Linked DNA regions of Homo sapiens. The protein of the gene in region 5 interacts with the protein of the main gene of each other region in a pairwise test. Each region holds a gene or a part of one and is shown on either strand. Other genes may lie near its edges.

Evidence for each region.
Region 1: the proteins of AKAP17A (region 5) and SDCBP2 interact in binary tests that used the Homo sapiens proteins (3 or more experiments, as listed by UniProt).
Region 2: the proteins of AKAP17A (region 5) and ANKRD36B interact in binary tests that used the Homo sapiens proteins (3 or more experiments, as listed by UniProt).
Region 3: the proteins of AKAP17A (region 5) and THAP1 interact in binary tests that used the Homo sapiens proteins (3 or more experiments, as listed by UniProt).
Region 4: the proteins of AKAP17A (region 5) and RNF4 interact in binary tests that used the Homo sapiens proteins (3 or more experiments, as listed by UniProt).
Region 6: the proteins of AKAP17A (region 5) and ZRANB2 interact in binary tests that used the Homo sapiens proteins (3 or more experiments, as listed by UniProt).
Region 7: the proteins of AKAP17A (region 5) and SRRM4 interact in binary tests that used the Homo sapiens proteins (3 or more experiments, as listed by UniProt).

The regions. Positions count from the first base shown.
Region 1 is NC_000020.11:1,319,059-1,323,010, reverse strand, and holds part of SDCBP2 (syntenin-2), read left to right. Parts: intron 1-1,810; exon of another isoform or gene 1,811-2,575; 5' UTR 2,576-2,594; coding exon 2,595-2,648; intron 2,649-3,351; coding exon 3,352-3,421; intron 3,422-3,952.
Region 2 is NC_000002.12:97,579,814-97,583,765, reverse strand, and holds part of ANKRD36B (ankyrin repeat domain-containing protein 36B), read left to right. Parts: intron 1-3,197; coding exon 3,198-3,304; intron 3,305-3,952.
Region 3 is NC_000008.11:42,836,054-42,840,657, reverse strand, and holds the end of THAP1 (THAP domain-containing protein 1), read left to right. Parts: intron 1-1,276; coding exon 1,277-1,472; intron 1,473-2,321; coding exon 2,322-2,696; 3' UTR 2,697-3,984; downstream 3,985-4,604. UniProt on the Homo sapiens protein: DNA-binding transcription regulator that regulates endothelial cell proliferation and G1/S cell-cycle progression.
Region 4 is NC_000004.12:2,492,905-2,496,856, reverse strand, and holds part of RNF4 (E3 ubiquitin-protein ligase RNF4), read right to left. Parts: intron 1-3,952. UniProt on the Homo sapiens protein: E3 ubiquitin-protein ligase which binds polysumoylated chains covalently attached to proteins and mediates 'Lys-6'-, 'Lys-11'-, 'Lys-48'- and 'Lys-63'-linked polyubiquitination of those substrates and their subsequent targeting to the proteasome for degradation.
Region 5 is NC_000023.11:1,597,709-1,601,660, forward strand, and holds part of AKAP17A (A-kinase anchor protein 17A), read left to right. Parts: intron 1-1,483; coding exon 1,484-1,724; intron 1,725-2,429; exon of another isoform or gene 2,430-2,499; intron 2,500-2,950; coding exon 2,951-3,886; 3' UTR 3,887-3,952. UniProt on the Homo sapiens protein: Splice factor regulating alternative splice site selection for certain mRNA precursors. Mediates regulation of pre-mRNA splicing in a PKA-dependent manner.
Region 6 is NC_000001.11:71,070,624-71,074,575, forward strand, and holds part of ZRANB2 (zinc finger Ran-binding domain-containing protein 2), read right to left. Parts: intron 1,926-3,952; coding exon 1,849-1,925; intron 1,633-1,848; coding exon 1,498-1,632; intron 374-1,497; coding exon 204-373; intron 1-203. UniProt on the Homo sapiens protein: Splice factor required for alternative splicing of TRA2B/SFRS10 transcripts. Binds to ssRNA containing the consensus sequence 5'-AGGUAA-3'. May interfere with constitutive 5'-splice site selection.
Region 7 is NC_000012.12:118,984,492-118,988,443, reverse strand, and holds part of SRRM4 (serine/arginine repetitive matrix protein 4), read right to left. Parts: intron 1-3,952. UniProt on the Homo sapiens protein: Splicing factor specifically required for neural cell differentiation.

The DNA.
Region 1 (3,952 bases), on a different chromosome or scaffold from region 5:
GCCGGGTGAGTGTTGCCATGCACTATTCCAGCTCTTGCCTTGCCAAATGTTTATATTTTTTTCAATCCAAGTAAGAAGTGACGCATTTTGTGTTTCCAGATTTTTAAATATTGGCACTAATTCAGATTTTAAAAACAAAAGGCTGGGCATAGTGGCTCAGGCCTGTAATCCCAACACTTTGGGGGACCGAAGCGGGCAAATTGCTTGAGCCCAGGAGTTCAAGACCAGCCTGGGCAACATGCTGAAACCCTGTCTCTACAAAAAATACAAAAATTAACCAGGTGTGGCGGCATGCACCTATGTCCCAGCTACTTGGGAAGCTGAGGTGGGAGGATGGCTTCAGCCCAGGAGTTGGAGATTGCAGTGAGCCAAGATCGCGCCACTGTACTCCAGCTTTGGCAACAGAGTGAGACTCTGTCTCAAAATAATAATAATAATAAAACAGGACTGTGAGAGGCACATTTGGGACTTCTGGTCCTTGTTTCATCCAGGAAGGTGGGTGTTCTTAGGATACTAGAGCTTTACTTTACAAGGAGAAAAGTGGAAGCCCAGGTAGAATGTGTTGCTTCTGGCAATATTATTGAGCTAGCCTCCATGCTAGGGGTTAGAGGCTTCACAGCAAATGAGAAGCCCCTGTTCCTGCCATCTTGGAACTCCTAAGGAGGTAGACAGACAAGTAAAGAGGCAACCACAAGAGTGGTGAATACTCAACAGGAGTAGGACATGGAGCAGGGGCTAGGGGGAGCACAAATCAAAGCAGGCTTCCTGTAAGAGGAGCTCCCTGATCTGAGACTTGAAAATTATTAGGAGTTGGCCAAGCAAGGAGCAGGGAGAGGAGGGGTATTCCAGATAGAAGGAATAACACATGCAAAAGAGACAGGAGGGAATCACATGCAAGGACGTGGAAGTAGCTCATTGTGGCTGGAGTTGAAAGTAGCAGCTGAAAGGACGTAAGGCAAGAAATGAAGCTGGAGAGGTAGACTAGGGTTGCAAACAAATATCTATTGGGACTTGGCACCAGTGAGTACAATGGTCTGGGTGTAACAGCCAATAGAGGATGGTGGACTGGGTCACCCTGGAGTCTGCTGCTACTCAATTGTAGCTACTCTGCTATAGCCTAGGGTTGCCAAAGCTTCCTGTTTTTTGGGAGCAGTGGGAAATTCGATTATTAAATCCAGTACCTTGAGCTTTGTGTTTAAGCTGCTAATCTGAACGTTTACAGTACTCCACAAGGTCAAATAAAATCTATTTCCATCTGGCCCTGGGCCCACCAGTTCCAATCTCTGGTGGAATCGTGAAGGCCCTGTGAGCCTCTTTAAGGAGAGTACATTCCCAAGGCAGGGAAGCCACTGGCGGGCTTTCAGCCAGGGCATGACATCCCAAGTGTGTACACAAAGGGCCTGGTGGCTGCTGTCTGGAGAGCAGCAGGACGGCAGGAGGGGAGGCAGCAGTGTGTTTGGAGGGTGTTATGGCACCTGGAGAGGGCCAGGGAGATGATGGGGACCTGCACAACACGGGATGTGGGAGAGATGGGATTTGATGACAGACAAGAAGGGATAGTGGGGGCGGGGCCAAGGATGACACAGGGGTCAAGGCAGCAGGTGCAGAGGGAGGAGAAGGAGCAGTGATGGATGAGTATGTCCTCGGCGTGCCTGTGGTCACTCAGGGAGGTGCCCAGCGGATCTGATCCTGGGAAGCCTGGAGTCACATCGCTCAGGCACAGGACCCTCAGTTTCCTGTGCCACCAGCGGGCATTCCTTTATCATGTGTACCCATCACATGTGAGTTCAGTGGGGTGAATAGGACACACCTTTACCCCTCAGAACTGCAGTCAGGACAAGTGGCGAGTTCAAGCAAGAGGCTGGCCCGGTGCTGTCCCGGAGCTGTCCCGGAGGGCAGGGTCCTGGGTGGGAGGGGCAGTGACCGTATTGCCTGGGAGCCAGGGGAGGCGTGTCCCACAGGAACCGAGGGTGACAAGGAGGTTGGGCAGGGGCTCCAGTTGGAGTGGACTGCCTCAGCGAAGCCTGGAGGTGTGACAGAGCCAGTGGTTAGTGAGTAAAGGGAAGGAACCCAGAAAGGCAGACTGCTCCTTCCCCACATTTCGTCAGGAAGGGAATAAAACATTTCTTAAGAGGTCATCATTCCTTTCACTTTCTCGGGGCACCTTGCTCAGAGGTCCTGCTGATTCTCCCTGGGACAATGAGAAGGTGTTTAGTAAATAAGTGCTCATGGTGCCTCTCCACCCCCCATTCCCTCCTCCCTCTGGAGCAGTGCCCTGTTGAGTGTCTAAGTTCTGCTACAGTTTGTGTGAGAGTCTTTATAAATTTCCTACTGGTCTTACTTCATTGTGGCCAAGATTAAAAGTTGACAGTGAGGCTGGAGATGAGTGGAATACAGTAGAGTTCAAATATCGACAGGGGATTAGGGGTGGAGTTCGGGGAGGCATTCTAAGTGCCCTGCTGCCTTTCTGTTTGAATATTAAGTTCCAACCCGCTTGCTGTTGCGGATGTCTGTGCCTCCTTTCAAGGGGGCATCAGCTGCATCCTTATCCTTCCCCACCCTCTGCACTCTGCAGGGTGTTCTGAGAATCAGCCATGTCATCCCTGTACCCATCTCTAGAGGACCTAAAAGTGGACCAAGCCATTCAGGTAAGTCGCCAGGCCCCATTGGCCTGGATTCCCTGAAGGGGACCTTGGGGATTACCCTGGAAGGTGCTGGGTACTGGGGCCACTTGGAGATTCCCGTAGGCCTCAGGGCATGTAGGTGTCCACTGCAGGGCCTGCTGGGCAGAGAAGACATCCAGGGGGCAATGCCAATGGCGTTACAGCAAGAATAGAAAAGACCAAGCAGCGCACGCATGCCTCTCTCATGCCTGCTCTGTCCTGCCCAGGCCCAGCTCTCCCTCCCTCCAGGATGGGCGGGCTCCATGCTCTAAGGCAGGCTTTCAGAGGAAACAAGACTAGTGGGCATAGGCATTGGTCTGCTTAGCCCCCAGAAGCCCCCTTCCTCCTCCATCCCAGCACTCTGTGGTTCCAGTGGGTTTTGAGAAATGGAGACTTTTCAGCTGAGAACTTGATTGGGAGATGGGCCTTGATGTTCTGCCTGTTGCAGGCAGTAAATGGGTTGTGACATAGGGTGGGTCACAGTCCCCCAGAACTTCCTCCCAGGAAAAGACACATCTGCGGAGGCCACGTTTACGTGATCTTGAGCCCTGAGGGTTGGTGCACACTCCCCCCACACCCCGGGCCCACTCACACCCCTAATGCCCAGACCCTGGCCTCATGGAGCTCCAGGCTCTGGGGTTCCTGGGGTCCTGGCCACAGCTGACCAGTGCTCCCTGCTCCTCCCCAGGCCCAGGTCAGAGCCTCACCCAAGATGCCAGCCCTGCCAGTCCAGGCAACAGCCATTTCCCCACCACCAGGTGAGTGGGCTGGGATGAGGGGCTCCTGGGTGCCAAGTCCTTTCAGGGAAGAGATCATCAGGGAAGCTTGGCAATGCCAAAGGTATGGGAGGCTCCAGGGTTAAGGACTCAACATGGTGGGAAGAGAGGACCAGGCTTCCAGTTGCCACCCACCTCTTACTGCCTGGGTGACCTGGGCTGAGTCACCTCACCTCCCAGAGCCTGTGCCCATGCTGTTCCCCTCCCTCCTTGACTGCCTGGTGAACCCCTGTTTATCCTTCCAAACCCAGCTCAAGTTAGGGAAGCTATGGCTTCTCTGATGCCCCCAGCAAGGCTGCCTTGAGGATGTGATATCATTTGTGGGGCCTCTGTCTATATAAACGATTTGAGTCACCTCAAATCAGCATTTCAGCACCATTCTGGTGATCCAATCTCATGTGACCCCGGGAATGAAATACCACACTTGTCAGACTTCCTTGCTGGAACTATGGCTGGCCTGGGGTGGGGGCAGGTGGGGAAGAAGTGGACGGCAGATAGCGGCTCAAAGAGAGA
Region 2 (3,952 bases), on a different chromosome or scaffold from region 5:
CTAATATTTACTATTAAATATTACTGGGCATGTATGTTTTAAAATATTTCCTTGAAGCTGGGCATGGTGGTGCCTCTAGCCAGAGCAACAGATTAAGACACTGCCTCTAACAGCAACAACACAACAACAACAACAACAATAAAACATTTCTTGGGACACTGATACGCTGCTGGTTAAGAACCACTGAATAGATAAGTGTAATATAAATTCCCATATCTCAAACACACAAAAAATCTCTAGAAGAGCTGGAGATAGGTGCTGCTTCCTTTAAATTTCTCCTTTCCAATAATATTGGCCTGACTTTTACCTGTCTCTACCTCTGTGGTTGGGAAGTGGAAAGGACTATTATTTGCAGTATCTATCAGCATAAGAATAACACCTTTTCTTTGCCACCATCACTTATTCACTGCCATTCATAGGGTCATTAGAAATTTGCTATTGTGGACTCTTTTAATAAGTAGAGACTGACTCTTTCAGGACTCTGAGTCTCTTTGTTATCATTCTGGTGATTAGGTCAATACATCATTATTAAAAGCGGGGTTCTCTCAATTACAATAGCAAAAAATTCTAAACCTTTTTTTAAAGCTGAAGCTCTATTATGGACTGCCTCAGTATGTCAGTTAAGTACATAGAACTGTGGCATAATCAGGATAGCAGTTTTAAACACTGAAAACCATGAAGTTAGTAAGAATACAAAGAATACATATAGGTCATTATTAGAGCTTTAATTGATAAGCCATTGTATTTTTATTTCTGATTTATATTTTACCTAAAATAAAAAAAATTAGGTTACAATATAGAAACTAGAATTATAATTTAATATTATTTTAATAATTTAGTTGCAGCAGTCCTATGAACTAATTATCCATTTGGTGAACAATCTGGGAAAATTAAACATAAATTATAAATGAATGAATGTTGTAAAAGTGCTCAAAGTGGGTATTATGACTCTTAGTAACAATTTTTATTGCATTCTTGGGCCTATTTTGGAAAAAAAATCTGAAACTAAAGAAAGGAAGTATTTTACATGAAAATACTTGCTTTACATACAATCGCTTGGAGACATATCCATAGCAAATATAAAAATACAAGGTATATAGTCCAAATGTGTCCCATACATGTGTTTAGTTTGCGTCTACAAATTGTCTCAACATGGAAGGTTTAGGAGACTCGTGCACAGATCTGGATTCCAAGCTTCTCTTCAAGAATCCAATCTGGTGTCCCTTGAGCCTATCTCAGGTTTTGGATGCTGTGCAGAGGTTGCCCCTTTCTATGAGGCATGTGGTCTCCATTTTGCTACTGTGCCTACCTAGGTACTTCACTTCCTCAGGTCATCTCCCTTGCCTCTGTAGGGATGACTTTACAAGCCCTGTTTTATAATATATTTTAGTAAATATTTCAAGGTTTTCAAGACATTTTATATTTATTTAAATGTAGAGTCTATATTTTATATAAATCCTTTGGTAATCGGGTTGAACTTTTGAATTTAGATGGTGGTGTTTTATAAACTATTTATACATACCATAAATAATCATCTTCCCATTAGAATGCATGTAAGCTTTTTAAGGTGAATCATGGTATAGTTGCATAGGTTATGCATATTGCAGACAACATTATATTTTTCTCTTCAGCATTGCCTCCTAAAAATGCAAGTAATTGGCCGAGCGCAGTGGCTCACGCCTGTAATCCTAGCACTTTGGGAGGCAGAGGCAGGTAGATCACGAGGTCAGAAGATTGAGACCATCCTGGCTAACACGGTGAAACCCCCTCTCTACTACAAATACAAAAAATTAGCTGGGTGTGGTGGCACACGCCTGTAGTCCCAGCTACTCGGGAGGCTGAGGCAGGAGAATTTCTCGTGCTTGAATCCGGGAGGCGGAGGTTGCAGTGAGCCGAGATGGCACCACTGCACTCCAGCCTGGGTGACAGAGCGAGACTCCATCTCAAATAAATAAATAAATAAATAAATAAATGATGCAAATAATTTAGTGGTTTTCATTATGCTATAAATAATTCATATAGGTCATTATTAGAGCTTTAATTGATAAGCCATTGTATTTTTATTTCTGATTGATATTTTACCTAAAATAAAATAAGTTAGGTAAGAATGAATTGGAAACTAGAATACAAATAGATTTTTAAAGGAGTTATGTACCAGGGTCCTAAGATTATAATTACATAAATATTTGCATCAGGGTCCTAAGATTGTAATTGAGAATAACATTTCATACAGAGCTTTCTGACAGCTAAGATAAAAATATTACTAGAGAAAACCCATGGACTATTTAATAATAAGCAGTGAAAGTTCACTCGAAGCCTATCTCTATTAATTCAGAGCCCGGCTCTCCGAATTAAAAAGAGATAGGCTTCAAATGAACTGTCAATCGTGTCAGAATCTCAGATGACAATGTCAGGTGCTCAGGTGCTCAGGAGCTCCTGACATTGTCACCTGAGATTCTCACACCATCGATAGAAGAGAATGAGGCAAGTGTGTATCACCCAGAGGAAACCTCTACCTTTACTGGTAAGCTCTCACAACTGTATCCCTGAAACTCTCATTTCTCAAATGTTAACATTCTCCAAAATAAGTATTTACAAATAGGGATTAGGTGAAGTTCAAAAGATTTCTCAAATACTAGACACATAATGCACAGTTTTGTAACATTTTTCAAACATGGGTGATCATGGAGTCTCTCTTTTGGGGTATAATGTTCAAATTCTGGTAAAGTAAATATCCTTTGGAATATATTAATAGTTTAAGAAACACCGCTCTATAGATAATAATTTAGATCATTAATAAAAATACCTGAAACATTTATTACTGTGTCTTAGAGTTTGAGGACATAGAGAAAAAAATACAGCTGCTGCCCTCAAGAAGCTCTTGGTTCAGGTGGGAAACAATTAAATCCTTGAAACATGCCATGCTAAATGCTGGGACAGAAGCAAAGATTCTTGGAACTGGGAAATGTTTGAAGTGAGTTTTGGAGATGACCAGAGTTCTTGTGGTGAGGCAGAGGAGGTTGTTTCCAGGGGAAGGAGCAGAACATAGAAAAGCACCGAGGAGGGAAAAGAAAGGGACTACCTCTTACGACCTTTCAATTGTATATATTGAAGCTCACAGGATCTTACATAAGGTTTTCATTTCAGTTGATAAATATGTAATTTTGTGATTATAAATTGTTGCTGTTATTTTACAGAATGAATATCAGCCACTGTTACTTGCTGTGAGTCGAAGAAAAGTGAAAATGGTGGAATTTTTATTAAAGAAAAAAGCAAATGTAAATGCCATTGATTATCTTGGCAGGTACAGACCTTAGTTCTTATTGTGTTGTTTTTAAACCTGAGTGTCATTTTAGAGTGGTAGCAGTCACTCAAGTCACAAATATTACATTAGTAAGAAGACTAACTTTTAATTACTGGGATATAGTGAGAAATATCAACACAGATCATCACTTAGGTAGAAAAACAATTATTTGGACTGAGTAACATAAAGAACAGTGTATAGCAGGATTCATCTCTCTCTATAGACATTATACACATAAAAGGCTTCTATATATAGAAAGCTCTGTATATTGATAGATGTTTGTTATTTGTAAGATGATGTGGTGTTATTTACAATGTAATAATGTGATGCTTTTGATTGTATGATCTTACATTAGCTAAAGGGGTTTCATGTTAGTTTTTCATTTCTACTGTGTTTTGATGTTGTTTTTAATTGATATGGGGAGGGGGAAAAAAGATAGCTTTAGATGGATAAAACTTTACTTCAATGAAGACAAGCTTTAGGTTCACACAGGACTGGGTTTAATCCCTAGCTTTCCCACTTGCTAGATGTGTGACCTTGGTAACATTACTTACCAAGTATGTTTTCTTCTGTGAAAAGGAGGGTAATAATATATCCTTCAAGGGTGGTTGTGTGTAAGTAACATTATATATATATAATGTTAGAATG
Region 3 (4,604 bases), on a different chromosome or scaffold from region 5:
CTTCTCCCACCCTCTACATAGTGGCAGCGGAGAGTGCTATGTCGTACAAAGAAAAGGGACTGTCATAAAGATCTCTTACTAGCAGAGTCAGGCTCTAGCATATCGTACATGGAAGAGAGACTGTGAAACATAAATTTGAAATTCCCTTCCCTTTTTCTTTCTAATCCCCCCAGTTTACCAAATTCTTAACTTGGAAGAGTAAAATTACCACAATAAATGTAAACTCTCACTATCCCCGTTTACCTGGGCCTAATGGACATCCCAGTTGATTAGAAAATAAATTCTTTCGTTATTATCTGCCTTTAATTCAAATTTAGCCTATTCATATTTGTCAGACTGATGCTAAGAGAACTAGAAGCCCCTTTTTCCCAGTACGCAGATACAAATGTGCAATCTTTGTCTCTCTGTGCAGCACACAGAAAATTACTGGTAAAAAATATGAATACAGGTTATTTTTTTCTTTTTGAGACGGTATGGCTCTGTCACCCAGGCTGGAGTGCAGTGGAATGATCTCAGCTCACCGCAGCCTTGACCTCCCAGGCTCGAGCAGTCCTTCCACCTCAGTCTCAGCCTCCTGAGTACCTGGGCACATACCACCATGCCCAGCTAATTTTTGTGTCTTTTGTAGAGACAGGGTTTTGCCGTGTTGCCCAGGCTAGTCTCGAACTCTTGGACTTAAGTAGTCCCTCGGACAGTGGCCTCCCAAGTGCTGGGATTACAGGCATGAGCCGTGGGCACATTTACTCTATAGTATGTATTTTACCTGAATCTTTTGGTGAACTCAGTATAAAAAGTTAAACGTTAATGAATGAGGGCCAGGCACAGTGGCTCACGCATGTAATTCGAGCACTTTGGGAGGCCAAGGCGGGCAGATCACAAGGTCAAGAAATCGAATCCATCCTGGCCAACATGGTGAAAGCCCATCTCTACTAAAAGTACAAAACTTAGCTGGGCGTGGTGGCGCACGCCTGAGTCCCAGCTACTTGGGAGGCTGAGGCAGGAGAATCGCTTGAACCTGGGAGGCGGAGACGCAGTGAGCCGAGATTGCACCACTGCACTCCAGCCTAACAACAGAGCAAGACGGCATCTCAAAAAAATTTTTAAAAAATTAATAAATGAGATAAATAGATAACTAGAGCTAATCTTTAATCCAATAGGATAATACAATTGTAACATCTTTAATACCAATGTAAGATATTTCCTAAGCTGGAAAGTTTGGGTGCCTTTATTTATTTAAAAAATCAGGACAGATAATTGAATTATGCCTTCTTCTTAGGTTTCCTCTTACTCGACCCAGTCTTTGTAAAGAATGGGAGGCAGCTGTCAGAAGAAAAAACTTTAAACCCACCAAGTATAGCAGTATTTGTTCAGAGCACTTTACTCCAGACTGCTTTAAGAGAGAGTGCAACAACAAGTTACTGAAAGAGAATGCTGTGCCCACAATATTTCTTTGTACTGAGCCACATGACAAGGTAATATGCATTTTAAAATATTGGGTTGCTTTTTGTTTATCAAACTGATGTGTTCATTGATTAAAATGTGGAAAATTGAGTTAGTGTTAAGAGAATAAATGTGCCTGGAACCTTGTAGTTAACAGTGATACACTTCTGAAAACACAAAATGCAGTTTATTAAAGATAAATATCCTCACACTAAGAAACTTAGTCCAGCTTTGTAACTTAGTTAAAAACCACTCTGTACTGCCAGTTATATATTGATAAGTTTTGGGTTTTCTTTATCAGTGACAGTTTAGTTTCAAAGCATTTTTTTCTCCTCAGTGCTTAATATTTAATTAGATCTGATGATTCATTTTGTCTCTTTCCTGCACCGTCCCTCTACTTCAGGTAGAAAAGTTTATTCAAACTGAAACTGTTTTCTCATTTTGGAATGTTTCTATACCACTGATTCCCAAAAAAAGTCAGTATTTCTTAAATTCCACAGATTCTTTTATTATTTATTTATTTATTTATTTTTTGGAGACAAAGTCTTTGTTGCCCAGGCTGGAGTGCAGTGACATGATCTTGGCTCACTGCAACCTCCGCCTCCCAGTTTCAAGCAATTCTCTTGCCTCAGCCGCCCAAGTAGCTGGGATTATAGGCGTGCACCACCACATCTGGCTAATTTTTGTATTTTTAGCAGAGACAGGGTTTCACCATGTTGGCCAGGCTGGTCTCAAACTCCTGACCTCAGGTGATCCGCCCACCTCTTCCTCACAAAAGTACTAGGATTATAGGCATGAGCCACTGCGCCTGGTCAGTCCACAGATTCTTTTAAACTGTTTTTAGTTACTAAATTCAAACATACTTTGTATTTTTGTTTTAGAAAGAAGATCTTCTGGAGCCACAGGAACAGCTTCCCCCACCTCCTTTACCGCCTCCTGTTTCCCAGGTTGATGCTGCTATTGGATTACTAATGCCGCCTCTTCAGACCCCTGTTAATCTCTCAGTTTTCTGTGACCACAACTATACTGTGGAGGATACAATGCACCAGCGGAAAAGGATTCATCAGCTAGAACAGCAAGTTGAAAAACTCAGAAAGAAGCTCAAGACCGCACAGCAGCGATGCAGAAGGCAAGAACGGCAGCTTGAAAAATTAAAGGAGGTTGTTCACTTCCAGAAAGAGAAAGACGACGTATCAGAAAGAGGTTATGTGATTCTACCAAATGACTACTTTGAAATAGTTGAAGTACCAGCATAAAAAAATGAAATGTGTATTGATTTCTAATGGGGCAATACCACATATCCTCCTCTAGCCTGTAAAGGAGTTTCATTTAAAAAAATAACATTTGATTACTTATATAAAAACAGTTCAGAATATTTTTTTAAAAAAAATTCTATATATACTGTAAAATTATAAATTTTTTTGTTTGTAATTTCAGGTTTTTTACATTTTAACAAAATATTTTAAAAGTTATAAACTAACCTCAGACCTCTAATGTAAGTTGGTTTCAAGATTGGGGATTTTGGGGTTTTTTTTTAGTATTTATAGAAATAATGTAAAAATAAAAAGTAAAGAGAATGAGAACAGTGTGGTAAAAGGGTGATTTCAGTTTAAAACTTAAAATTAGTACTGTTTTATTGAGAGAATTTAGTTATATTTTAAATCAGAAGTATGGGTCAGATCATGGGACATAACTTCTTAGAATATATATATACATATGTACATATTCTCATATGTAAAGTCACAAGGTTCATTTATCTTTCTGAATCAGTTATCAAAGATAAATTGGCAAGTCAGTACTTAAGAAAAAAGATTTGATTATCATCACAGCAGAAAAAAGTCATTGCATATCTGATCAATAACTTCAGATTCTAAGAGTGGATTTTTTTTTTTTACATGGGCTCCTATTTTTTCCCCTACTGTCTTGCATTATAAAATTAGAAGTGTATTTTCAGTGGAAGAAACATTTTTCAATAAATAAAGTAAGGCATTGTCATCAATGAAGTAATTAAAACTGGGACCTGATCTATGATACGCTTTTTTCTTTCATTACACCCTAGCTGAAGGACATCCAGTTCCCCAGCTGTAGTTATGTATCTGCCTTCAAGTCTCTGACAAATGTGCTGTGTTAGTAGAGTTTGATTTGTATCATATGATAATCTTGCACTTGACTGAGTTGGGACAAGGCTTCACATAAAAAATTATTTCTTCACTTTTAACACAAGTTAGAAATTATATCCCATTTAGTTAAGTGCGTGATTTATATTCAGAACAACCTACTATGTAGCGTTTATTTTACTGAATGTGGAGATTTAAACACTGAGGTTTCTGTTCAAACTGTGAGTTCTGTTCTTTGTGAGAAATTTTACATATATTGGAAGTGAAAATATGTTCTGAGTAAACAAATATTGCTATGGGAGTTATCTTTTTAGATTTAGAATAACTGTTCCAATGATAATTATTACTTTTATATTTCAAAGTACACTAAGATCGTTGAAGAGCAATAGAACCTTTAAGACAGTATTAAAGGTGTGAAACAATGGCATTCAAAGTGTCTTTTGTAGAACTGGTTTTCATTGTAGTTCACTGCCATGCTGCCAGTGGATAGCACTGTGATTCATGCATATTTGATGTTTTATGAACCAGTATCTCAAAAATAGAAATAATGATTAGAAGATTACTTGAAGTTGGGCGGGGCGCCATGGCTCACGCCTGTAATCCCAGCACTTTGGGAGGCCGAGGCGGATGGATCACAAGGTCAGGAGTTCAAGACCAGCCTGGCCAATATGGTGAAACCCCGTCTCTACTAAAAATACAAAAACTAGCTGGGCATGGTGGCGAGTGCCTGTAGTCCCAGCTACTTGGGAGGCTGAGGCAGGAGAATTGCCTGAACCCGGGAGGTGGAGGTTGCAGTGAGCTGAGATTGCGCCACTACACTCCAGCCTGGGCAATAAAGCAAGACCCCGTCTCAAAAAAAAAAAAAAAAAAAAAAAAAGATTACTTGAAGTTACATAGTCTGATAACATCATTTAGAACTCATGCTGATCAGTCAGAAGGCTTTTACAGATTATTCATGGAACTCGAAGCTACAAAGTATTCAAGAAGTTTGGTTTTATATGTCATCTTTCTAGCAATTCCTGGAAGTACTCAGGAATATTTAGATTT
Region 4 (3,952 bases), on a different chromosome or scaffold from region 5:
AATACTGAATGCTTACGGAGAGAGAAACCATCCAAAACATAAAATGAGTAGAAATTCCAGAAAGTAAAACTTCTGTTTTATCAAACTATCAGCAGGTCGGCTGGGCATGGTGGCTCACACCTGTAATCCCAGCACTTTCGGAGGCTGAGGTGGGCGAATCATGAGGTGAGGAGTTCAAGGTCAGCCTGGCCAACATGGTGAAGCCTCATCACTACTGAAAATACAAAAGTTAGCTGGGCGTGGTGGCAGGCACCTGTAATCCCAGCTACTCCAGAGGCTGAGGCAGGAGAATCACTTGAACCTGGGAGGCAGAGGTTGCAGTGAGGCGAGATCGCGTCACTGTACTCTAGCCCGGGTGACAGTGTGAGACTCCATCTCAAAAAAACTATCAGCAGGTCAAAAGGGACACGATGCATCCCTTTACAAAAGCTTGAGGCCAAGTCAGGATTTGGACTTGGTAGTGGATGCCCTGGCCAAAAGGCTGGAAACTCTTCCCTTTAACCAAAAGTTATCAATTTCTCTTCCTTGACTTTGTGTTCAGCCTTTCTGAGCCCTTTTTGTTTCTTAGCATAAAGAACTTGGAGTTTTCTGAGTTTCTATACATTGTGGAAAGCTTATCTTCCCCTGGGAAATGTGGCCTTGAACCTTTCAGGGCACTATCAACTGTGATTCACACCAGACAATCACTCCCCACAAAGAACTCAAAGAACCAAAGCTGTTTTAAGCCTGTTCCCAGTGGCTACCCAAGAGCCATGTCTTCCGGAAAGTTCAGGCTCTCAGCTGGTTGATAAGCAACTGACACTCTGACCAGCCTTTCTTCCAAATCCTTAGGCTGCTGGTTTGCCAATATGCTCCAGCATTTCTGGTCTGCCTGGTCCCAAAAGACAAGCTGAGAATATCCTCCACCTTAATCAAGAGACAGAGCTGGCCAGGCGCAGTGGCTCAGGCCTGTAATCCCAGCACTTTGGGAGGCAGAGGCAGGCGGATCACCAGAGGTCAGGAGTTCAAGATCAGCCTGGGCAACACGGTGAAACCCGTCTCTACTAAAAATACAAAATTAGCTGGGCGTGGTGGCACATGCCTGTAATCCCAGCTACTCGGGAGGCTGAGGCAGGAGAATCACTTGAACCTGGGAGGTGGAGGATGCGGTGAGCCGAGATTGTGCCATTGCACTCCAGCCTGGGCAACAAGAGTAAATCTCCATCTCACCCCCCCCCAAAAAAAAAAGAGCTTCCCAACAGAGCCTGTCACCTTGTATTCCCACTGGTGTTTCCGTGCTCTTCTCCCTGTGCCCTGTCCTGCTATCCTTTGCACTGGACAACCTGGGACAAGTACTGCACTACTAAGTCTCAAGTTCCTCACCAGTACCAGCCTTGCAGAGCTGTTATAAGGTCTAAATGAGATCATGTATGTAAAGTACTGCGCAGAGACGGAAGATGCTACTACTATCCCAATTCCTTAGCCTTACTAGGGTCAATCTGTCCCAGGAAACTCTGAAAGGACCAGATATTGCAGGAGAGATTCATACAAGATCCAGGAACACCCACCATCCAGCCAAGCCCTCGCTAGGCAACAGGGATAAGCCTGATTCTGTGTTCCAATGCTACTCTTATCAAATGGCAGCTTGAGATGTTTTGGAAATGAAGCTGGGTCTAGTAACTTCCCACGGACTAAGGAGCACAGAACCAGCCCCAGGAGGGCCCAGAGGCCAAGCGACAGCAGCCAAAACTCCCAAGTGAGCAGCTGCTCTTGGCCTCAAGGGAGCTGACACTAACCTCAGTGGAGTTCTACTGCCCAGTGTTTTAAGGGTTTCCCCAGCAGCCACCAGGTTGCTTATGTAAAAAGTAAAGTAGAGGTTCCTCTTCAAAGACTTTCCTCCCCATCTAATTAGAAATAAATAGTAACTTCTCTTAAAAGCAAAATTTATTCAAAGACCTGTACTAACATTCTTAAATATCTGCTAGCCATAATAAAGAAATCAATGTACTTTATATTCTTAGCTCCCACAATTTAGCCTAAATATTTACCTTGGCATGCTTATATTAGTCCAAGCAAGCATTAGATCATAGCCTGTTCCTCTTCCTTATTTAAAGGTTATTTTTACCTTTTTCAGCATTCCACAAGTTACTTCCTCCTTCCTTTATTCTCCTCTGCCTTTGCCTCTTTTCAAAAGTTCTGGCCAGGTGTGGTGGCGCATGCCTGTAATCCCAGCACTTTGGGAGGCTGAGGCGGGCGGATCACAAGGTCAGAAGATCGAGACCATCCTGGCTAACACGTAGAAACCCCATCTCTACTAAAAAATACAAAAAAAATTAGCCAGGCGTGGTGGCGGGCACCTGTAGTCCCAGCTACTTGGGAGGCTGCGGCAGGAGAATGGTGTGAACCCGGGAGGTGGAGCTTGCAGTGACCCCGAGATCATGCCACTGCACTCCAGCCTGGGCGACAGAGTGAGACTCTGTCTCCAAAAAAAAAAAAAAAAAAAAGTTCTAAGTTGCTAGCCAATTGGGACAAATACAGAATGTGAGGTCCTGTTCCAGCCAATAAAAACTGGATACAGCAGCAGAGTAAACACATCAAGTTATAAATAACCCTGTCTCCTTTATTCAATGTATTCTCATGGCAAAACAACTGGTGAGTGTACCCTTTCTGCAGAAAGTATAAATATGGCCTTGCTAAAAAAAATTGAATTTACGTTCAAATGCTATTTCTTTACAGCACCAGAAAACAAGCATTTCAAACACTTAGGACTCTTTAATATTTACCCCATTCTCGTGGATCACGAGGTCAGGAGTTCAAGACCAGCCTGGCCAAGATGCTGAAACCCCGTCTCTACTAATAACACAAAAAGTAGCTGGGCGTGGTGGCATGCACCTGTAGTCCCAGCTACTCGGGAGGCTGAGGCAGGAGAATCGCTTGAACCCGGGCAGCAGAGGTTGCAGTGAGCCAATATTGCATCCACTGCACTCCAGCCTGGGCGACAGAGCAAGACTCTGTCTCAAAATAATAATAATAAATAAATGAAAATATTTACCCCATTCTCTTTGACAATGTCCTTTGTCCTCGTATAGGCTCCTTCCCTTGTAGCCAAGTCTTTTTTTTTTTTTTTTTTTTTTAAGACGGAGTCTCACTCTGTTGCTCAGGCAGGAGTGCAGTGGAATGATCTCGGCTCACCACAACTTCTGCCTCCCAGGTTCAAGCGATTCTCCTGCCTCAGCCTCCCGAGTAGCTGGGATTACAGGCACCCGCCACTGTGCTTAGCTAATTTTTTTGTATTTTTAGTGGAAACGGGGTTTCACCATGTTGGCCAGGCTGGTCTCGAACTCCTGACCTTGTGATCCACCATGCCCAGCCTGTAGCAGACCAAGTCTTTCTTACTAGGCACTGCTAAGCAGACCTCCATGTCCCACAGCTACCTGTGTGGTTTCTGGGCCCCACTGAGGGAGCCAAGAAAGCAGCCATGGGTCCTGGACCCAAAATCTCCCCTCACGGATAATTACAGGAATGTCCCCACCCCTCCCTAACCTCAGGAATCCTCTTTTCTGCCTGCTCTATCGACCCCTCCATGCCTTTAACCAGAGCTTCTTCCCTGCCTGGAGTGCCTGTCCCTCCCTTTCTTTACTTGGCCAATTCTTGCACAGCTTTCCAGAACCCACTCAAATGTCACCTCCTTCCTGAGGACATCCTTTACCCTCCCACTCTGCTGTCTCTGAGCCTCCTCCTCCCAAGTAGCTTCCCTGCACCACTCAAGACAGGCTCAATCAATCCAGGAATATCTGCAGAGCTCCCCACTCTGGCCCTCCCATAATTCTGGTCATAATTCTCTTCCTTTTCACTAGCAGGGCCCTCAGAGGTCCATAGCTTTTGGTGAAAACTGACCATCCTATCACAACCACATAAGCTATAACCACACCGTAACTTTCAGGAATTTTAACCAATTTCTTCACACACATGC
Region 5 (3,952 bases):
AGAAGAAGCTGCATCCTTGATCTTTCCCTGAGGAGAGATGGACGTTGGAGTAGTGGAGTGTGTCTCTGCAGGGAAGGGACCCCGTCTGCCTGGCCAGACCACAGAGGGATTGGGGGAAGCGGGGCCGGGCCATGAGGTTCTCGAGAGCAGGATGGGGTGTCCAGAGCCCCGGGGAGGGGCAGGCCTGTTGTCTGGGGGAGCTGGCCAGGAGGGCTCCACACGCAGGGCCGTACTTGTCCCCGCTGTCCCCCACTGTCCTTCCTCAGAGGCTGAGCATGAGGGGAGGCCCAGGGCAGCCTCCTGCATTTCTTTCTGGTGGGTGGAGATGAGGCATGTTTGCTTGTTCAGCCCTCACGTGTAACTTTGAGCTTGATGAGAGCTGTCCTCTGAAAGCTGCCCAGCCTCGAGGCGTCGCTGTGGGTCCCGCCTAAGGGCGTGCTGTGTGCTGGGCTGCCCTGAGCCGCCCTCCGAGCTCGTGGGGCGGTGACAGCTCACAGGGCGGTTAAACCTTCAGCACATGAAACTGCCTGAGGACCTGCATGCCCCGCCCGGAGACCGTGTGGATCACTGTCTGGGCGTCGGCACCTGGCCCGGCCCCCTTCTTGGGGTGGCAGAGCGTGGGATGCCTTTTCTCCCGGCCTGCTCCTCCTTGTCCCCGTGTCTCCTCTCCCCTTGGTGTCTGCGTGGGTCTGTGTCACCCCGGCGGGCTTTGTGGCCTCACTAGGCGGTTGGCGGCGCCCACCCGGGCTTCAGAAGTCTCCGCCTCCGTGTCGTGTTCCATAGGAACAGCTGCGACTTGTTCCCATGTCCGGTGTTGGTTGAAATGCATTTGAGAGCTGCGGGGCGGGGGAGGCTGAGCTAGGGAACTCCCCACTGTCTCTTGTGGACTCTCTCTGGGGACCGCGCCCCTCCCCGGCCGCATTCATCCTCACTTCCTGGACACCCCTCTCCACAGGAAAAGTGCAAGGAGCTGAGTGGCGTGGCTGTGGTTGGATTTGTTTAGAGAGAGGTCCCCCCGTGCCAGTGCTGTGTGGTGCCCTCACAGGAGTCCTGCACAACAAGGAGTCACCCAGCGCGGTTCCTGGTGGGCAGAACCGGCGTCCTCCGCGCCGCTGTGCATCCCGGGGCCTTGTTGGGCCTGCTGGGGTTCCTCTTTCACCCGTCCGTCTGCCCATCCGTCTTTCCCCTGACTGGGGGCGTGGCTTTTGATGTGGTCGGTCCAGTGGTCGTTTTCTTCGTGGTTTCAGGGTTGGGTCACACTTAGCAGGACGGTGTGTTGGAAGGTCACGGAGGTCCTCGCCCGGCTCACTCCTTCCACCTCTCGGGCTGCTTTGAGTCAACCGAGGTCCACCTTGGGATAAAGAGTTAAATGCTTAATCGTTGGACCGTGGCCTGTTCCGCCGTGTTTGGAAAGCCGCTTGTATGGTGTGTGGTGTGTTGGCTGCGGCGCTCTCTGTGACCACCCCCGGTGTGTTCCACACAGGAAACAAAAGGAGCTGGAAGAGCTGGAGCGAGAGAGGAAAAGAGAAGAGAAGCTTCGCAAGAGGGAGCAGAAGCAGAGGGACCGTGAGCTGCGCCGGAATCAGAAGAAGCTGGAGAAGCTGCAGGCGGAGGAGCAGAAGCAGCTGCAGGAGAAGATCAAGCTGGAGGAGCGCAAGCTGCTGCTGGCCCAGAGGAACCTGCAGTCCATCCGGCTCATCGCCGAGCTGCTCAGCAGAGCCAAGGTACCCGGGGGCTCCCTCTGCAGCCGCCAGCCGCGCCCGGGCTGCCCTCAGTGCCCTCCCCTGAAATGCGGGCGGCGTCACGGCGCCGTTTCCCCGCCGGCTGCAGCTGTAGCTACGAAACCAGCTTTAATGCCGAGGATGACGGCTCCTTCCCGGGAGGGTGTAGCGCTCGTCTGTCGTTCCCGATGATTTCAGAGCTGTGACGGTTTCCTTTTGCAAAGCTGGTGCATTCAGGTTCCCCGAGCAGGCTGGCAGCCTCCCGGGGGCCAGGGCAGAGGCTCTCTGTTTCCTTTGGGTCGGGGCAGTGGCAGAGAGTGCAGGGGGCCGCTCCCTCTGGCCCGCGCCTCTGTGTGTGGTCAGCTGGCCTGGCTGTGACCTCACCAGTGGCCCAGAGCAGAGGGGCAAGGTGGGCTGGGGGGAGGGCTGAGCGCACAGAGGGGGCCTGCCGTGGGCCCGGGTCCCTCCTCCGCAGCGTGAACCTGACAGGTCTCACCAGCGCCGGTACTGACGACCCCCTCAGCACCAAGAGCCTCCCTGCTCCTCCTGCAGGCGCGACTGGTAACTCCCATGAGCCCGGGGCCAGGGCCCACAGACAGACAGACCTCCCCAGGACAGACGTCCCCGGCACGCTCCTTGTCCTCAGGAGGGCTGCGTCCCCCTGGAGTCCAACGCGGGGCGACCCCATAACCTGTTGTCTGATTACAGTTGTGATAAGTCCCCGGGAAGGAGCATGACAAGAGGCTGAGACATGTGGCAGCCCAGTCCTTACCTCATGGTGAATATTGAAGACACTAACCCAGGCTAGGCCAGGCTCGCCCCGCAGCTACGGCGGTGGCATGCGTCTGCGGCGTCATCTCAGCTCCCTGTTGCTGGCGGCCGCTTGTGACCTAACCGCAGGCGCCTGTGTGCAACGTGGTGGGGCTCCCGGCAGGGCTCGGCTCTGCCCAAGAGGCCCGCCCTGGGGCTGCGCCGAGCCGCTTTGCCAAGGGGTTTCCTTCTCACTCAGACGCATGATGGCCCCAGGTGTGGCCGCGGGAGCCGAGGGATGGACGGGCTGGACCTGGCTCGCCGTAGGAGACGCCCCCCACCCCTGGGCTGGAGTCCAGCCAGGCCGCTGATCCTGCATCCCCAGACCATGGGGCCTCCAAACACCTTCCCAGCTCCTGTCCCACGTGTCCGGCCAGGCTCAGGAACCGGGCTCAGCTGCACTTTCCTCTTCCCCGCAGGCTGTGAAGCTACGGGAACAGGAGCAGAAGGAGGAGAAGCTGAGGCTCCAGCAGCAGGAGGAGCGGCGGCGGCTGCAGGAGGCCGAGCTGCGGCGCGTGGAGGAGGAGAAGGAGCGCGCGCTGGGCCTGCAGCGGAAAGAGCGGGAGCTGCGCGAGCGGCTGCTGAGCATCCTGCTGAGCAAGAAGCCGGACGACAGCCACACACACGACGAGCTGGGCGTGGCACACGCCGACCTGCTGCAGCCCGTCCTGGACATCCTGCAGACCGTGTCGTCCGGCTGTGTGAGCGCCACCACGCTGCACCCCCTCGGGGGCCAGCCCCCGGCCGGTGCCCCCAAGGAGAGCCCGGCCCACCCAGAGGCCGACGGCGCTCCCAAAAGCGTGAACGGGAGCGTGGCCGAGGAGGCCCCATGCAAGGAGGTTCAGAGCTCCTGTCGTGTGGTCCCCGAGGATGGCTCTCCAGAGAAGAGGTGCCCGGGCGGCGTCCTCTCCTGCATTCCTGACAACAACCAACAGCCCAAGGGCATCCCTGCCTGCGAGCAGAATGTCTCCAGAAAGGACACCCGGTCAGAACAGGACAAGTGCAACCGGGAGCCCAGCAAGGGCCGGGGCCGGGCCACCGGAGACGGGCTTGCTGACCGGCACAAGCGGGAGAGGAGCCGGGCCAGGCGGGCCAGCAGCAGGGAGGACGGGAGGCCACGCAAGGAGCGGCGGCCCCACAAGAAGCACGCCTACAAGGATGACAGCCCCCGCCGGCGCAGCACGAGCCCGGACCACACCCGGTCCCGGAGGTCCCACAGCAAAGACAGGCACCGGAGGGAGCGGAGCCGGGAGCGGAGGGGCAGCGCCAGCAGGAAGCACAGCCGCCACCGCCGCCGAAGCGAGCGGTCGCGCTCCCGGTCCCCGAGCAGGCACCGCAGTACCTGGAACAGGTAATGACGGGCACGGCCTCCCCACGGCCTGTCCGGGAAAGACCAGGACCTGCTCGAGCCTCCTGGCCGC
Region 6 (3,952 bases), on a different chromosome or scaffold from region 5:
TTCATGCTAAGACTTTACTTTTCTAAAAATACTGGACAACAACTGTATGGTACTAAGCTGAAAAATTATTTTAAAAGTTGATTTGAATTAAATTTTTAAAATAAAAAGGAAAGTTTATTTCGTCAAGAAAAACAAAATTTATAAATAAAAAAGTTAGATACTGACATTTTGACTGGTGTTACCCTTGACCTGTACCCGTTTACCTGGACCTAGACCTTGAACTTGAGGGGGAGGATGAGCGTGATGAAGATCGTGAATGTGAAGATCGAGACTTTGAGCGACTTCGTCTATTAGATTTCTTTTTATTACTATCTTCTTCTTCACTGGCATCAAGATTATATTTTGAGAGATCAGCGTCATCTTCATCCTCATCCTAACAAAAATTCAATTATAATTAGACATTTAGATATTAGTGTTACCTACCAGGAAAGATAAAACAGTTAGGTGTACTGAGCACCTCCATATGCATATATCACAGGTATCTCAGCAAATTAATTCTGAATTCTAAAATTCACCTACTAAACTCATCTCAAATAGAGACTTGACAACTTTGTCTCAGGTATTGCACAGACATAAACCTGGAGGCCATACACACTTTTTCTGTCACACTTATGCATCACCCAAGAATTTTCAAGTCCACCTCCTTAAAAGTCCTTGAAATCACCATTTTTAGTCTTAGACACTCTGTTCCTTATTCTCTAGCATATTATAGTAACCTCTTAGCTGGTCTCCTCAAATCTGAAGATCCATTCTGCCTCTCTAGTATCTCAATATACTGACAGTCATCACTCTGAAACACAGGACAGATAAACACATCTCACTTTTTTCTTAAAAACTTCAAAACTGGCTTATTATTTCTTTAGTTGCATTCCAAGACCTCTTATGATCAGGCTCTAAGGTACCCTTAACATGGCATAAAACTTACACTCTGGCCTGACAGAACAAGTATCACCAGACCTGAAATGTGTGCTGTCCCCCTCATCTCATTCTCCCCTCTGCTCTAACTATACTGGCCTATGTATGGTATTTTTGAAGGCTGCTGGCTTATCTCCTATTTAGGGAACCCGTATTTGCTGTTCTCTGCCTAAATGTGCTCTCACCTCGGCTCTTATTGCTGGCTCCTTCCTATCATTCAAGTTTCAGCTCAAACTTCACCTCCTTAGACATTATCCATCGGCAAAACCAAAGTTGCTTTTAAACTGTTATCACATCATGTGTCTTCATAACGTTACTGCTATCAAAATTACCTATTTATATATTTCCTCCTCTAGAACTGTGTAAGAGAAAACTGGTTCTGTTTCGGTCACCACTGTATCTCCAGAACAGTAGTGTTCCAAGTACAAATAGTACTTGGCAGAGTGGAAATCCAAAACCTTTGTGAGAACAAATGAAAACACAGAATATATTTTCACCAAGTGTCTGAGGCTGTCAAAAGCATTCATGTTATGGTATAACTCCAATAAGACAAAAGGGAAATAGGACAAGAAAATTGTTCACCTCATCTAACTTATATTTAGAAAGATCTTCATCCTCATCCTCTTCTTCTCCCTCTGATTCTTTATCTTCAACTTCCTTTAATATAGATGCAGGACCAACTGCTTTCCCTCTGTATTTTTTCTTTTTACGTCCAAACTAGAGAAAAACAATTTCAAAATGCTTGTCAGCTGATAATGCATTAAACTTAATACATTTTCTAAAAAATTATTTTAGATATTTATGATTTCCTGAAAATGATCAGTTGCTGAAGACTCAAATTGCACTTAAAAAAAAGTTTGTTTTCCTTTGCATTTAAGAATTTTTTCTGTTTTTCTAATTTATATTCAACCTGAACACCAAAATATAGCTTACCTCATCATATTCACCATCAGATTCTTCTCTTTCTATATATTCAACATTTTCTCTTTCATTAAAACCACCACCATATCCTTAAAAAAGAGGGCACAAATTGTTACCCTATGACAATTGATTTAAATAATAAACACATCATGCCCAAATCTCCAGACAACAAAAAACATCTAATCAACAATGGCTGCCTACCCATCTAATAAATTACTAGTCTTTAGAAAGCATATTAGAAATCACCACAGAAAATACAGAGAACTTAGTTGTAACGTCATATGGCTGTACTTCTAGCTCTTTTCAATTCCAAATTGCCCTACATGACTTATTTAATTCATAGAAAGTATTGGTGGAAAACATCTCAAACTTCTGCTATAACCAAGTTTTAAAGGACTTTCCTCTACAGTTAATCGTAATTCTTCTGGGAAGGGTGGGCTCAGTAACAACCAAGCATTAAATTCCACTGTTTACCAACTGCAAATAGTCTGAAATCTTCTGATATTCTGAAATTTTGCTACTTTAAAATGTAGCAGGCCTTATTAGAGCTTGGAAAATTCCTAATTACACAGACAAACACAATAACACAATAAAGGCCATCCTTTGGCCCTGGTTTAATTGGTTTTAACACATAGGTAAAAGTCACACAGGTTCTCTGAAGTAGCCAGTAAATTTTGAAATTAAATGATTCTATTAAAAAGTAGTTGAGATTAGCAAACCACTATTCTCTCATGTCACAACCAATGTATACAATTCAATTGGCAGGTCTCTGACATAAGCTTAAAGGAGAGACTGGAATTAAAGAAAATGAGCTAGTTTTAGGAAAAGTGAGTTGACATATTTTGAAAAAGTCTCCCATTGAAAATTAAAGAGGTATGTGTTGATCAAGAGTAATACAATCTAACTGGTCACATACTCCAGAGCAGTATCAGTACAATAAGGCCGGTGATTTCCAGACTTAGGGACTTCATTCATCAGCAAAATATTAAATAGATTTATAATAAAAATATTTTATAAAAATTAGGACTTGTAACTTAAAATTTGCCTATCATATTTAAAAAAATATTTTTAAAATTTCACTTTCTGAAAAAAACCCACACTAATATAGCATCTTTTCTTCATTATACTTTGTACTAGTGAAAACTTCAAAATACTTGGAAGTTAATAAAAATATTTTTAAACATACGTGGGATCTAAATTGGAAATAATTTACATAGGAAAAAACTGAAAAGTAATATGACAAATATGGAAAGCTCAAAAATATAGTAAAATTAGAAAGTGAACTATAACTCTAGTAGTTAATTTTTCAAAAGTATGTAAATAAAATTATTTTAAGAGGCAGCAAAATAGTCTGCTGACAACAAAGACATTGGTATGTTCTATGAACCCATACAATATAAATCTAGCTCATTAACTCTGTATAAATGGAAAATACACTAGCTCCCTATCGTGAAAAAACTGAAGCATACCATTTTCACTGAATACCTGAGATAGTGGAATCAATGGAATGATATGTATGTTTCCGTCATTCTACTAATTTCAAGCACTTCAGATAATGCTGTATAAATTGGTTTTATTTCCACTCTTGCCGCCACCTCTCCTAATTACTTCTCCACAAACAGAAAGAAGAGTGTTTAATCCATTACTCAGGTAACTCATCTTTCACTTCTTAGCTTAAGCATAGCTTTCCTAAAGAGGACTTCATTAATCTTTGGTGCTGTAAGACTCTTTTGCTCACCTAGGTATCCCCAGCACCTTGCACAGTGGCCTATAAATGTCTTCAAGGAATGAATACAGAAAACACAATTCTGGAATCATCTAATGAATTTGAATTTCTATGGAAAGCTTTAGAAAGCAACCAAGAATTTCCGTAGATTTTAGTAAGTCTTACAATGAATATATTTTCAAATTTGTCTCACAGTATAATGTAAAAAGCTGAGCAAGGGCCAAGAAAGAATCAAACACAGGTTTAAAATGAATGTTTGGATCAAGATTGTGACAATGGAAAAAAAGCGGGAAAGGGGGATGAATATAACATGTACTTCAAAGGAAGAACTAAGGCACTAACAGGAAAACTCTGTGATTCTACACCCTGAACAATTAATTCAACTCCTGA
Region 7 (3,952 bases), on a different chromosome or scaffold from region 5:
GAGCTGGAAAATGTATATTATATGAGCAGCTCCCTTCCACGGCTCCCCTCCACTAGCGTTGACTATTCCCCCACAGTTAATGTTCCCCTCAGAGAGTTTAGCCTGCTTTCTCTCCTATTAAAAGAAATGGTATTTGAGACCCTGCTGGGGGCAAAGGTCTGATTTTCTCTGATCATTCCTTGTATTTGTAGATAACGTTGATGAAATAGAAGAATCATCCCCATTTTGCAGATCGGATAACTAAAAATAACTGTGTGACTATAAGCAAGGGACTCCATGCTTCATTAAGGGTCTCTCCCTTCGCTGTTTTTTTTTTACATTCCTCTGTCTCTATTTCTCCCTACATTATCATGCTTAAGACAATAATATGTTTTACAGTTTCAAATAGCTAGAAGAAAAATACTGAATGTTTCTAATAAAAGAAATTATAAATGTTTAAGATGATGGATATGTTAATTACACTGATCTGATCACTGTACATTATATGTATCACAACACCACTATGTATCCCCCAAATATGTACAGTTATTATGTGAAAACAAATTTTAAAAATTAAAAAGACTGTCTCCCTTATGAAATATGTACTTATGTTGTGTCTACCTTTTCTACTAAACTCTGAGGCCCTCACTAGAGGACATTCAACTTTTTTCTCCCCAATGGGCCTGGCAAATAGTAACGAAAAAACCTATCATTTATTATTAATAGCAAGAGCCAACACTGATGGAGCTCTGACTGGGTGCCAAGTAGCACTTTCCATAAATTAGCTCATCCAGTCCTCACAGCAGCTCTTGGAGGGAGCTGCTATTATTAGCCCCATTTTATGGATGAGAAAACTGAGATTGAGAAGGTCAAGCTGCTTGCCAAGTCTCATAGCCCGTAAGCATTTGCAACCAATAAAATAAAACACTTCCTTTGATTAGTGTGCCCCTGAGGTCCATCAAATGTTTCAAACAGCTCTACCAATCTCCAGTGGCTCTTTAGGGAGCACCAAAGCCACATTTAAAAGTGAATACAGAGCATTGGAGCTGCTCAGGAGTCCAGTCCACAGAACCCAAGCATCACTACTGAACAAGCGCAGCCCAGGTAGTAAGGGGCTTTAGCATCCCCCCTCTCTGCATCTCGTTGGGTAGCCCCTGGCATAGTACACAAGAGCATCTGCTTTATGGAGATCTGGGTTTGTACCAGGCACAGTGCCATGCTCTTTATATAAATTATCTCATTCACTCCTCACTACAACCCCAACAGAGGAGTATTTCACAGATGGGGAGGCTGAGGCACAAAGAGGTGAAGTGACTAGCGGGTCCTGCAGCTTGCACGTAGCAAAGAAAGATTTGAGCCTGGATAGATTTGACTTCAGAGCTCAAACTCTTCATCATTCTACTTCCTCCACCTCAGAAATATTCTCTCACACTTCAGCGAAAGTCTTAGGAACAAGCAATTAAAGAGCTCTAGTTTTGCTAAGCCCCTGTGAATTCTTCCACTTCACGGGAAGGTAAATCCAGCCACTCTGAAAAATAAAAAATAAAAAAAACAGATTTTTTTTTTAATGTATTGCTCTTCTGCAGCATGCCTGAAGAGTTCATGGAGAAGAAGGCATGTGACCCAGGCTTCCTTCCCTATTAAAGGAGTTAGGGTTTTAGGGATGTTCCCTTTTTTTGGTGGCCTGGAGCAGTGGTGGAGGTAATGGAGACTTACAGGCCTAGAAAGCACATCCAAGTGGCATTTAGTCCAACCTCCTGCCCCCATACTGGCTAACATGTCTACTTGCCCAGACAGACAGATGTCTCTATCTAGGGAACTTCATTCTGACACCAGGGAGAGTCAAGTCTATTTGCAGTGTGTGCGTCTTTCAAGTTGCATTGATCAGAAGCCTCAGCGTCTCAGAACTGGAGGTGGGGTGGGGAGAGAGCTAATCTGTTGCTGGGTTTGAACCATGCACATTCATCTAATTAATGCATCCAACATTCACTGAACATCTACCACAACCTCGTTCTCTAAGATAGCACGTGTGCCGGGTGAACACAGCAGAATGTCAGAAATGACCCCCTGCAACCAACCCCTGTATCCCATTCAACAAATTTCACCTTTCAAAAGGAGAAAGGTTTGACCCACACAATAACGCTCCCTTCCTAGAGAAAAACGCTCATTCACCGCCAGGGCAAGCATTTTCTGTGACCCTCAGCGCATTGGCTCTTAACCACAGGCTGCTGCCAGAAAATCGCCTCTCAACAGCCCCTCACCTGGCTCCTGATGATCAAGTCAGCACAAACTGCTAACTGATCTCTTGGCACCGAGGGGAGTCTTGAATTAAATGGTTCAAAGGCATTTTTTTTTCTGCCTTACAATTTCCCTTTATGCAGTAAAATCTCCAATAGTTTGGAATTTATGGCCTTTTGGACAGGGCCTGGGCTGAAGTCTACTTCTGGTCTATTCTGCGTAGAAAGGATTTTTGAAGAAAATTAATAGCTTGCTAAAAGAATTGTAAGGAAAATGTGTGTTCTACTTAAGGGGATATCTTTTCTAGCCCTTTACTAACACTCATGCATCCATAAACAATTGATATGCAAATTTCAAATGATTTTTACATGTTCATTAAGCCTTTAGCTGCTACTATTGGTCGATATGGTGATATGAAATCATATTGTGGCTTGATCTAGCCTTAAGCACTAGGTTTTCACCGAGCTGAAACTTCTTAGGTACAAACTTCTCTAGGCTAAGCAATTAAAAAAGAGAATTAAGTTAATGCCAGGCAAAATGACTACCCTTCTTGGATGGGGATAAAAGGGAGGTGGCTCTCTACACTTTAGAGATTCATATATCTTATCGATTCATGCTGGTTCCCTTCCGGCTGGTAGATAAAGTTTGACAAGGACCACTGTACATCCTGGTTTGCCTGGGATGATCTCTGTTAGATCTTCCATCCTAGGTAATTACTAATGACACCTTCTTTCATTTTTAAAGACATTTTGATATAAACTATAAATCACATAGTCACTGTAGATTTGATGAAACCGTGGGATTAAAATTGTGATTTTTCAAGAAGTTTGAGCTTTCTTTAGACTGACAGTACCTGGTCTTCTCTATACAAACCAACAGAATGCTCCATGGAAATGTTATACCAATCAATTCTGAATCCAGATAATTATTTATTATCCCCAACCCCCTAACTGAAACAGTCAGATCAGAAAGCAGTTAGCCTCTTCTCAGAGACGAGGATTATGGGACCACTCTCTACCCTGCCTCATGTGTGTTAACTTCATCTGAATGTAGTTGTCCATCAGGAGTTGAAATCCCAATAAAAATGGTCAGCATTACTTGGGGGAGAAATGGGTAGGCATGGAGAACACAATGATGAGGAGTTGTTGCTTTCCTTTTGGCCACTATAAGCTTTGTTCCAGAGTCAATGTCTACTAAACAACACCATGCACCACACATAGGGGTAGAGCTTTACCTAACTAAATCCTTACAACCTGTTGTCTGAGGGGTTACTGTTATTATTTCTATTTTCAAGCTCAGTGTGGTAAAACTATTTGTTCAGGATACACAGCTAGTAAATGATAGAACCAGGACAGGAATCCAGGTTGTCTCATGCTCAAGTCTGAGCTCTTAACCACTATGATATACTGCTTCCCACTCTGCTCTACTGTTCTGACATTTGAGGCAGACATCTGGTTGCAATTTGATACATTATAAAGCTATTGCCTCATCAAGTATGCCCCACAGAGGGGTAGAGGAGAAAGAGAGACTAAGCAGGGGGTTGCTTAGATTGCAGTTGCATGATGTATGCATATTGCTATGAAATCAATGAATTGAATATATGTTTCTATCCTGGTACTAAATTACCTTGAGAGATAGACTTAAAATATCCTGAGGAAGTTTATTCAGAGGGGTGGCCTTCATCTATAAACAAATATTAAGTGTGACACCAACAGGACTGACTAGTGGTTCCTCC